2 linked regions of the Homo sapiens genome follow. The protein of the gene in region 2 purifies or fractionates together with the protein of the main gene of each other region. This does not show direct contact. Each region holds a gene or a part of one and is shown on either strand. Other genes may lie near its edges.

Region 1 (4,403 bases), on a different chromosome or scaffold from region 2:
ACATTCCAAGGTTTTCAAAAATTAATGATTGCTGGCACATGATAGGTGACCAAATGAATGGTTGTTGAACAAGAAAAAAAAAAAAAACAATGCAGAAGTGGATGCAGTTTTCAAGTACATGAAAGCACAGGACACCTGTTTGTGGCTTCGCCCACCGCAGGCAGGAAGAATCAGGTCATTTGAAGGGGAAATGGAAACCAGAGAATGGGCATTCTAGTCGTTTCTTCCCTCCTTGGGGGTTTACTTCATCACGGATGACTAGAGCAGCCTTCAGAGTCTCCCAAATTCCTGGACAAGAAACCCAGTCAGGTGCTTGCAGAAAGCCCCAAAGGGATTTTGCTTGGCACCAGGGACAGCGAGGCTGAGTACTGCTGTGACAGGGCCACACACGTGTCTCTGCTGGACCCACAGACAAAGAGCTCTGCACTGCTCAGGACTTGCCAGCAGACTCCAGGGAAGCCATGGTGGGGAACCCCACTAAGATCTGACTTCATCCCAGAGAAGACAGCTAAGCTTTGGGGACAGCCCTGGGCAGAGTGAATGTGGCCCAGGTTCGCTTTGACCCCCCCCCTCACCCTTGGCTCCTCCTTTAGCTGAACTGCTCACTGGATAGAGCACAGGCAGGCTACTTAAAAAATGCTGCCTGTGAGTAATGCCGGCAGTTTATAGCAGCTTTTGGAGAGGCCAGAAAACAGCCATGCCTGAGTGGCTGGTTCCCTTTCTGTTGGAGAGCTAGGTAGTAGGTCTAGAACGTTGTTCTGGGGACAATCCTTGTGCTTTGTGGAATGTATAGGCAAATTTTCTATCCTTTCTTTTTCTTTTTTATTTCTTTTTTTTTTGAGATGGGGTCTTGCTATGTTGCCCCAGTTGGTCTTGAACTCCTGGGCTCAAGTAATCCCCTTACCTCAGCCTCCTGAGCCAGCAATTTCTCTATGTGTTGTTTCCTGTCTTTCAATGGTGGCCCTGCTGCTGCTCTTCCAAGAAGCACATACGCTGTGCCCCAGGCCTCCCACTGAAGGCCTTATGCCTCTAGGCAGAATGGTGCCATCTCAGGTGGGGTCCATAGATAGTTTAAAATACCAGCCAAGCTGACCAAACTCTTTATGCCAGAGTCCAACCATGGGCCTCTAACTCCCACATCATTTGCTCTGCCCTGTTCGTTCCTCAGATTCCAGGAAGCCTGAGCGCCTCATTCAGCCAGATGATGCAATTTACACCTGGCTTTGAGGAAAAGCAGGGATGTGGAAAGACAAGAGCAGCTTTCAGAATTAGCTTTTGTTAGTGGAAAGACCCTGGATTTAAAGCCAGAGGACAAGAGTTTTGGAGATAGCAGTGCTGCTGCCACTTAGTGCCTGGAATTCTGTTACCCTTACTCTCATCTATAAAACAGAAGAAATAAGCTCTGCCCCACAGGACTGGTGTCAAGATGAACTCATGTAAACGTATATAGCTCGGCACCTTGGTTTCATAAATATTAGCCTTTTCCTCACATGGAAAAGTGCTTTGAGAACCAGAAAGCCCGATAAACCATATGGCTTTTGATGAAAACGAGGCACATTTTGGAGTCAGATATAGGAGAGAATCTCCCTTTATGAGCTGTGCACCTGAGGCAAATTGCACAGCCTCTCTGGGCTTCAATTTTTCACCTGTAGAATGAGGATGATAATCTCAGCTTATTAAAAGGATTGAAACAGAGTAAAATACTTGGCGTGTTCCTGTTGATCTTCTTCTGGTGTTTGAAAAGGCTCCTGGAACAGGTTTTGGGCTGGTGTTGCTCACCCTGATGTTCAGGGTAGGCCCTAGAACTTTGGGGGCCGGACCTGAGGCCCTCCACAGCCCCTGGGGTTGGAGAGCCCTGTTTGAGGGAAGGCACAGATAAAACCAGGGGGCCAACAGCTCTGCAGGGAGAAGCACTGACTTGAAGAGAAGGGGAGCAATGACAAGGCCGGCCTTCTCTGTTCCCTATCCTCTGTCCTCACAGGCTTGACCCCTGGCCTTTCTGAACCATTTGAAAGCTCTTTAAAAGGAGATAGGGAGGTACGCAGGAAGTGACTTGGGCAGCGAGGGGGGCAGAAATCACAAGGCCGTGTTTCCAGTTTGGCCACACTTAAAAGAGAAAGCAAGATTAGGCTGGGGATCTAAGGCTGAGGGGGGCACCGCCCCCCATCCTGGCCCTCCCTGCTCCCATTTGAAGGAAGAGTCCTACCAGGTGAAAAATGTCCTCCACACCCCACCCACTCCTGGCCACTGTTGCCTCTCAAACCACTGCTGGGAGATCTGGGGCACCCCCAGGTAGCCCTGGTCTAGTGCCAGAAGTGAAGGTGTTTATGGCTGGGCTCCCAACGCACAGGGCAGCCTGCAGCCACGGAGATCTCCAATTTCCTAAACTTGGACCTGCCCTAAGCTTTTCCTTATCCCCCCTGGCTCCCAGTCTAGCAGGTTCCCTGTGAAAGCCTGCTGCCCAGGTGATGGACACCTGAGGGTGTCATCCTGCCCTCCAGAACCCGCGAGCTGGGGGAGAAATGGAGGAGGAAAAGAAGACAACTTACTTGTTGAGATCGGAGCTTCCGAGTCCCACTGATGCTAACTTCTGGGGTGTCCCTTAGCGGCGGTGCAGGGGGGCTCAGGGCTTTTGAGGGGACTCCCCAGCCCCTGCCATGACCCCACGGAGGAGCTGTAGCTGGAACCTCTCCCTGTTGTGGGGTCCTGTGGGCAGAGGTACCTAAGCCATCCTGTCCCTTCACTCGCGGCCCCTTGGGTCACTCCCTTTCTCTAGCGAGAGCAGCTGGAACAATCTCTCTCTCTCTCTCTCTCTCTCTCTCTCTCTCTGTGTGTGTGTGTGTGTGTGTGTGTGTGTGTGTGTGTGTGTGTGTCCCCTCCTCCCTCTCCTCTCTCCCTCCGTCCCTGGTACAAATGAATCTCTGGGTAGTAACGCGACTGGAAGGGCCACCGGCGTTGGCGGCGGGGGGCGGGCTGGGGTGGGGCGGGGGCTCCATGTGATCCGGGACGCCGTCAGCTCGGCAGGACTGGGAGGGAAGAGGAAGGCGGAGAGAGAGCCCGGCAGGCATCCAGCCCTCCGCTCGCGTCCCCGCGGCCCCCTGCGCCCTCCCCCGGCTCCCCCTGCCCCCGGCTGCACCCCTGCTGCGGGGTGCCAGGGACGGAGACCCGCGCGCGCGCGTGTGAGCGTCCCATGCCTGTGTGTGAGCGCCGCGTGTCACGCGTGTCCGTGTGTGAGCGCCGCGTATTTAGTGGGTGCGGTGGAGCAGACAGAAAGAAGGGAGAAACTATTAGGGCAGAAATCTTGGCTCGGAGCCTCGGCGGGGCTGCTCAGTCGCTCCGCGGTGCGCTAAGCGGACGGTTGGCAGCATTTCGCCGTTTCCCGAGAGGGATGGAGCAGATGGGGGGATTCCTTTGGGAAGGCGGGGGAGCCACAGTCTGGGCGCTGCATCCCCCGCCCGACGGCTCTGATTCCCGCCGTGGAGTGAGGGTCCGGGGGCCTGATCCGCCAGCTGCAGGGGGAGTAGGTCCAGGGACAGGACCCAGGCTAGCTGTCCCCGGGCTCGCTGCTCACCCCGGACGATCTCTCCCCGGCGTGCGGCGGCGGCTGGGCGGCGATGGCTGGAAACGCGCCCTGCACGGACAGGAGGCGGGAGCAGCCCGGAGGGAACGGAGCTCAACCTTGCCCAGGCGTGGGCAGAGCCGGCGTCCTCCGCGCCACCTCCCGGCTCTCCCTTTTGGATTCCTACCTGCCTTGAGGACAGATGATGACCAGAGTGTGTTCTTTAATTCGTGGAAGCCGTAGGAAAGGCAGCTGCCAGGGCAGGCTGAAAGGGAGGGCTGCTGTCTGGGGAGGGCCGGCAGGTGCCTCTGAGGACCGGTCTGTTCGGGGTGGCCCTTCTCACCCGGTGGTGTTCCTTCTGGCCCCTCTCCGTTACCCAGCCTTTTGGGGTCAACACCCCCCCTGCCAGCCCCCTCTCTCAGGGCAGACACAGCTGGTCAAACGTGGGGTGCCCTAGCACCTAGCACAAGTGCTAGGTGAATGATGTCTACGACCAGAAAACTGGTTTATTACGTTGCAATGAGAAAAATGCTTGTCACTAATACTGGAGGGCACCAAGTCCATCCTCTCCTGTAAGGACAGTGACAGGGAAACTTAGTCTCTAACAGTGGCCTGGGGGTCCTCTTGCCTCGGAGACCAGCGTACACACAGCCCGTTGCCCAGGCACCCTCCCCTGGGACAGAGCACAGAGCGGTCCGGCCAGAGTGGGCCTCCTGATTGCCCCTCTTCTCTCTGTAGAGGGGGTGATTGTTAAATGTGGCTGCAACAGGCCCTAACAGGAAAGCTCTGTGTCCCCTTAGGGGACTCAGCTTGCCTAGGTGCTCACGCACTGCACCATATGTTG
Region 2 (3,815 bases):
AGATAAAAAGAGCCAGATTTTAAAACTCTTTGTTCCCTAACTCCTTGTATGTAATGCTCTTATTGAAAATGTTAACCGATTATTTTGAATGATTATTTTTTTGGAAAAAAAAAAAAAAAAAAAAAAAACCAACCCCATCAGGTGAGTTCAAACTTCCAATACTTTTAAAAAAAGATTAGGACCATCACACTGATCTCAAATTCTTAAGCGCCAAGTGCGCTAAATGAGCCCCTTTGAAAAGCATACACAAGGTCTGCCTTCCACGTAAACTTTCAAGAAAGACAACAAAATGGCTATCAGTCCTGACTGTATCATTAACTTAAGTTTGAAAGAGTCAACAAGTATTTACTGTATGCTCTCTACGTGACCTTGAGGACACTACAGACGAGTCACCTCACTGCACACGCCATCAGGGAAGATGCTGGTGCTCACTCCATTACTGCAGGTATCTGTATTGCCCAGCAAGTGCCTGGCATATTATGTATTTTCCATTTTTGAAATCGACAAAATTTCAAAAGTTGTCAAAATTTTGACAACATTGACAAAATCCAAAGACAACATGGTTTGGGTTAATTGTATTGAATATGACTGTGGTACTTAACTCTGTGACCTTATTCTAAATCACTTAATATCTCTGGTCTTGTACCCATATCTACCAGAAGCAGGGACAGATGTGCTAGTTGTCATGATTTAACTCCCTGATCTTTATCTTTAGTCCTGATTTTTCACCCTAACTTCAGATTCATCAAATTTCCAACTGCCTGCCATAATTTTTCTAAACTCAGCATTCTTCACCAAAAAAGCATTTTTCATTGTATTCTCTATTATTGACACCACTAACTTCCCAAATCAGAATCAACTTTGTAAATGTCACCTCCTATGATATTCCTCAAATCTCCCCTTTTCCAATCCTATCTCTAGTAATCCTGGGTTAGGCTCCCCAAATCTCTAATACTATTGCAATAGCTTGCTCACTGATCTCCCTGCCTTCAGTTCTACTCTACCTATATCCTTACCATTCACAAGGTAAAACAGGTATTATTTAGTACAAGTTCCTCCATGCCTGGCTCCTGCCCATCTCTCCAGCCTTAATTATCATTATGAACCTTCCCACTCACTCAAAGTCCCAACCATACCTAACTACCCACACTGCCCCATGTACACCATTCTATTTCATGCCTCATTCCTGTGCTGAGCTCCTCCCTTACCATACCATTCTTTATCTTGATAAGTTTTTATCATCCAGCAAGACAGCTCACCAGTCTCCTCCCAAGATGCTTTGCTTTGGGTCTTCCTCCACAATTTATGATAACCACTAAGAGCATGATCTGGCTCTTCCACCCACTCACTGTGACTTGGGGTAAATTACAAGTAATCTCTGTACTTTAATTTCCTTAGCTTTAATATTCCGGGGCTTTTAAAACATTATTAACACCACTATGTGCTGTTCTAAATGATTTACAATCTTCAGCACAATTCTACATGGATCTAGGATTGTCCACATTTTTATAGAAAACAGTGAAGAGTATATGCAGCTTGCCCATGATCATACAGCTAGTAATTGGTGGATTCGAGATTCTAACTCAGGAAGCCAGCTCCAGAGTTCTAGCTGTTTACCTCCATGCTATTAATATGTTGGTAACAGTCTCTACCCCAAGGCTTACTCTAGAGAGTAAGTTAATCGGTGCATAGTACTTAGAACAGGGCTTGGTACATTGAAAGCATGGCGTGTTTGCTATTATGATTCTGTGCCTTCATCGTATATATACATTATTTATTAAAGTAATTTAATTCAAAGATGTTTGAACTCCCTCCGTTATTTCCTGCCTTTTATCCTCAGATCCTGGCTTTGATAAATGTTTCCTGAATTAGAAAAAATTCATTAAAATTTGATTCCTTAAGCTCAATTCATGTTCCCATTTTCTCCTTTTATACCCAGTATTATTTGTAAGTCATTCAGCAAGGAAAAAGATTTAAATAAGACTCTGCTCCACCATCTGAGGAATCTAGTCTTCGGCTGTCCAAAGCATTTATTTCATGGGTTGAAGAGAGAGTTTTCTATTCTAGAGTCATGGTTTTCTATCTTTGTTCCAATCATTAGAGATCCATGGTTAGTAACAGGTCTTAAAGTTGTTTCTTTAGTTCACCTTCAAGAAAGTTTTTTTCAAATCACAAAAGCTTAAAAAATGTTTACTCATACAATTTGAAAAATATAGAAATAAGAGGTAAAAACTATCTTTTACCCATCACAAAGAAATAGCCAGTGTTGGTGTTAACAAAAGAAAAAATTAGCACAAATTTAAGGTTCGAATTGACTTTTATTTGTGATTCTAGGAATGGGCAACAGCTCATTCTATAAAATGGGTCTTCTAATGAGCTAAGCAGAGGAGGTTAGCCTTCTAGGCAGAAAAGGTTTAAAGAAAGCAGAAATAAGGGACAAAAAGTAGATTGGTTGTTTTAAAGTTGAAAACTTTCTTTACAGGTTAAAACAGAGAGGGCTGTCTTATTTCACTAACTCAGGTTGACTGAAATCTCTCTCTTTTTTTTTTTTTTTTTTAGAAAACTGGCTCATTTCAGTTCAAATTCAAAGTTCAGTTTGATTATGTGGCACTCAGCACAAGGGCCTCCATTCTAATTCTGTCTGGTCTGCTGGTGCCTAGTGCAGGTCAGTCTAAAACAAACGGCCTCCCATACATTTTTGTTCTTTATGTGTAAAGTACATTTTTAACATGTAGTTTTATAAAATATACTATATATGCTGTTTATAATCTGCTTTTTTTCCCATGTAATACTAGTCCACATGATTTTTAATAGTTGCAAAATATCCTACTATATATACAACCTATTTAAAAATTTCCTACTCTGCAATTAAGTTACTTCCAACTTTTGGCAGTATAAAAAGTATAACAAACGTCTATCTTTATGTACCTGCTTGCCTTTTTAGTTATTTGCTATACAGTATGTAGAAAGTTATTTATTGCTTGTACTTTATTTATTTGAGAAAAGATCTAAGATCTCACTCTGTAGCCCAGGCTGGAGTGCAGTGGCATTAACATGGCTCACCGCAGCCTCGACCTCCTATGCTCAATAGATACTCCAGCCTCAGTAGCTGGGACTCCAGGTGCATGCCTCCACACCTGGCTAATTTTTAAATTTTTTTGTACAGATACGGTACCACTATGTTGCCCAGGCTGGTCTCAAACTCTTGGGCTCAAGTGGTCCTCCCTCCTTGGCCTCCCAAAGTTTTGGCATTATATGCATGAGCCACCATGCTGGGCCTAGAAAGTTATAAAGATATACAACATTTCCAACACATTCTGCCAACCCTTCTTTTATAAAGACTTTATTTTATACTCCCACAAGCTGTGTTTCTTCTCTTTGCTAGAAATACATAAATTAAAAATAGCATCGTAATTTTAACAACCTCCATTTCTTCATTAAGTTTGACCTTTAAAACTTTGTGTTTATTCAGTATTTGGGCTGTGTATAAAGTTCTCTATTCATATTCCTTTTCTCATTTTTCTGAGTGTCTTTTTCTGAGATTTATATATCAAGCTATCGAAATTTTCAAAGGCTAACCAGAATATCAATTTTTTTTTTTTGCTTCTATTGCTTCATTATGTTCAGTATAGTATGACTTGGTTACCAGGGTTGAGCTCAAAGCTGCCAAGTGATAAGCTGTTGATCATTGATTAAGAATGTTCAGGAGTAGGAGTTTGGGATAGTAAGATCATTAACACTAGATTCAGAAATTGGGTTCAGATCCCCTTTTGGTAGTTTAACTCTTTGAACTCTCCTGACCTATAATATGCTTA

The links.
Region 1: the proteins of LONRF1 (region 2) and KCNJ5 purify together in Homo sapiens (affinity purification with mass spectrometry; 2 studies listed by BioGRID and IntAct, with this or other methods). This does not show direct contact.

What each region holds. Positions count from the first base shown.
Region 1 is NC_000011.10:128,889,868-128,894,270, reverse strand, and holds the start of KCNJ5 (G protein-activated inward rectifier potassium channel 4), read right to left. Parts: upstream 2,916-4,403; 5' UTR 2,550-2,915; intron 1-2,549. UniProt on the Homo sapiens protein: Inward rectifier potassium channels are characterized by a greater tendency to allow potassium to flow into the cell rather than out of it.
Region 2 is NC_000008.11:12,745,218-12,749,032, forward strand, and holds part of LONRF1 (LON peptidase N-terminal domain and RING finger protein 1), read right to left. Parts: intron 1-3,815.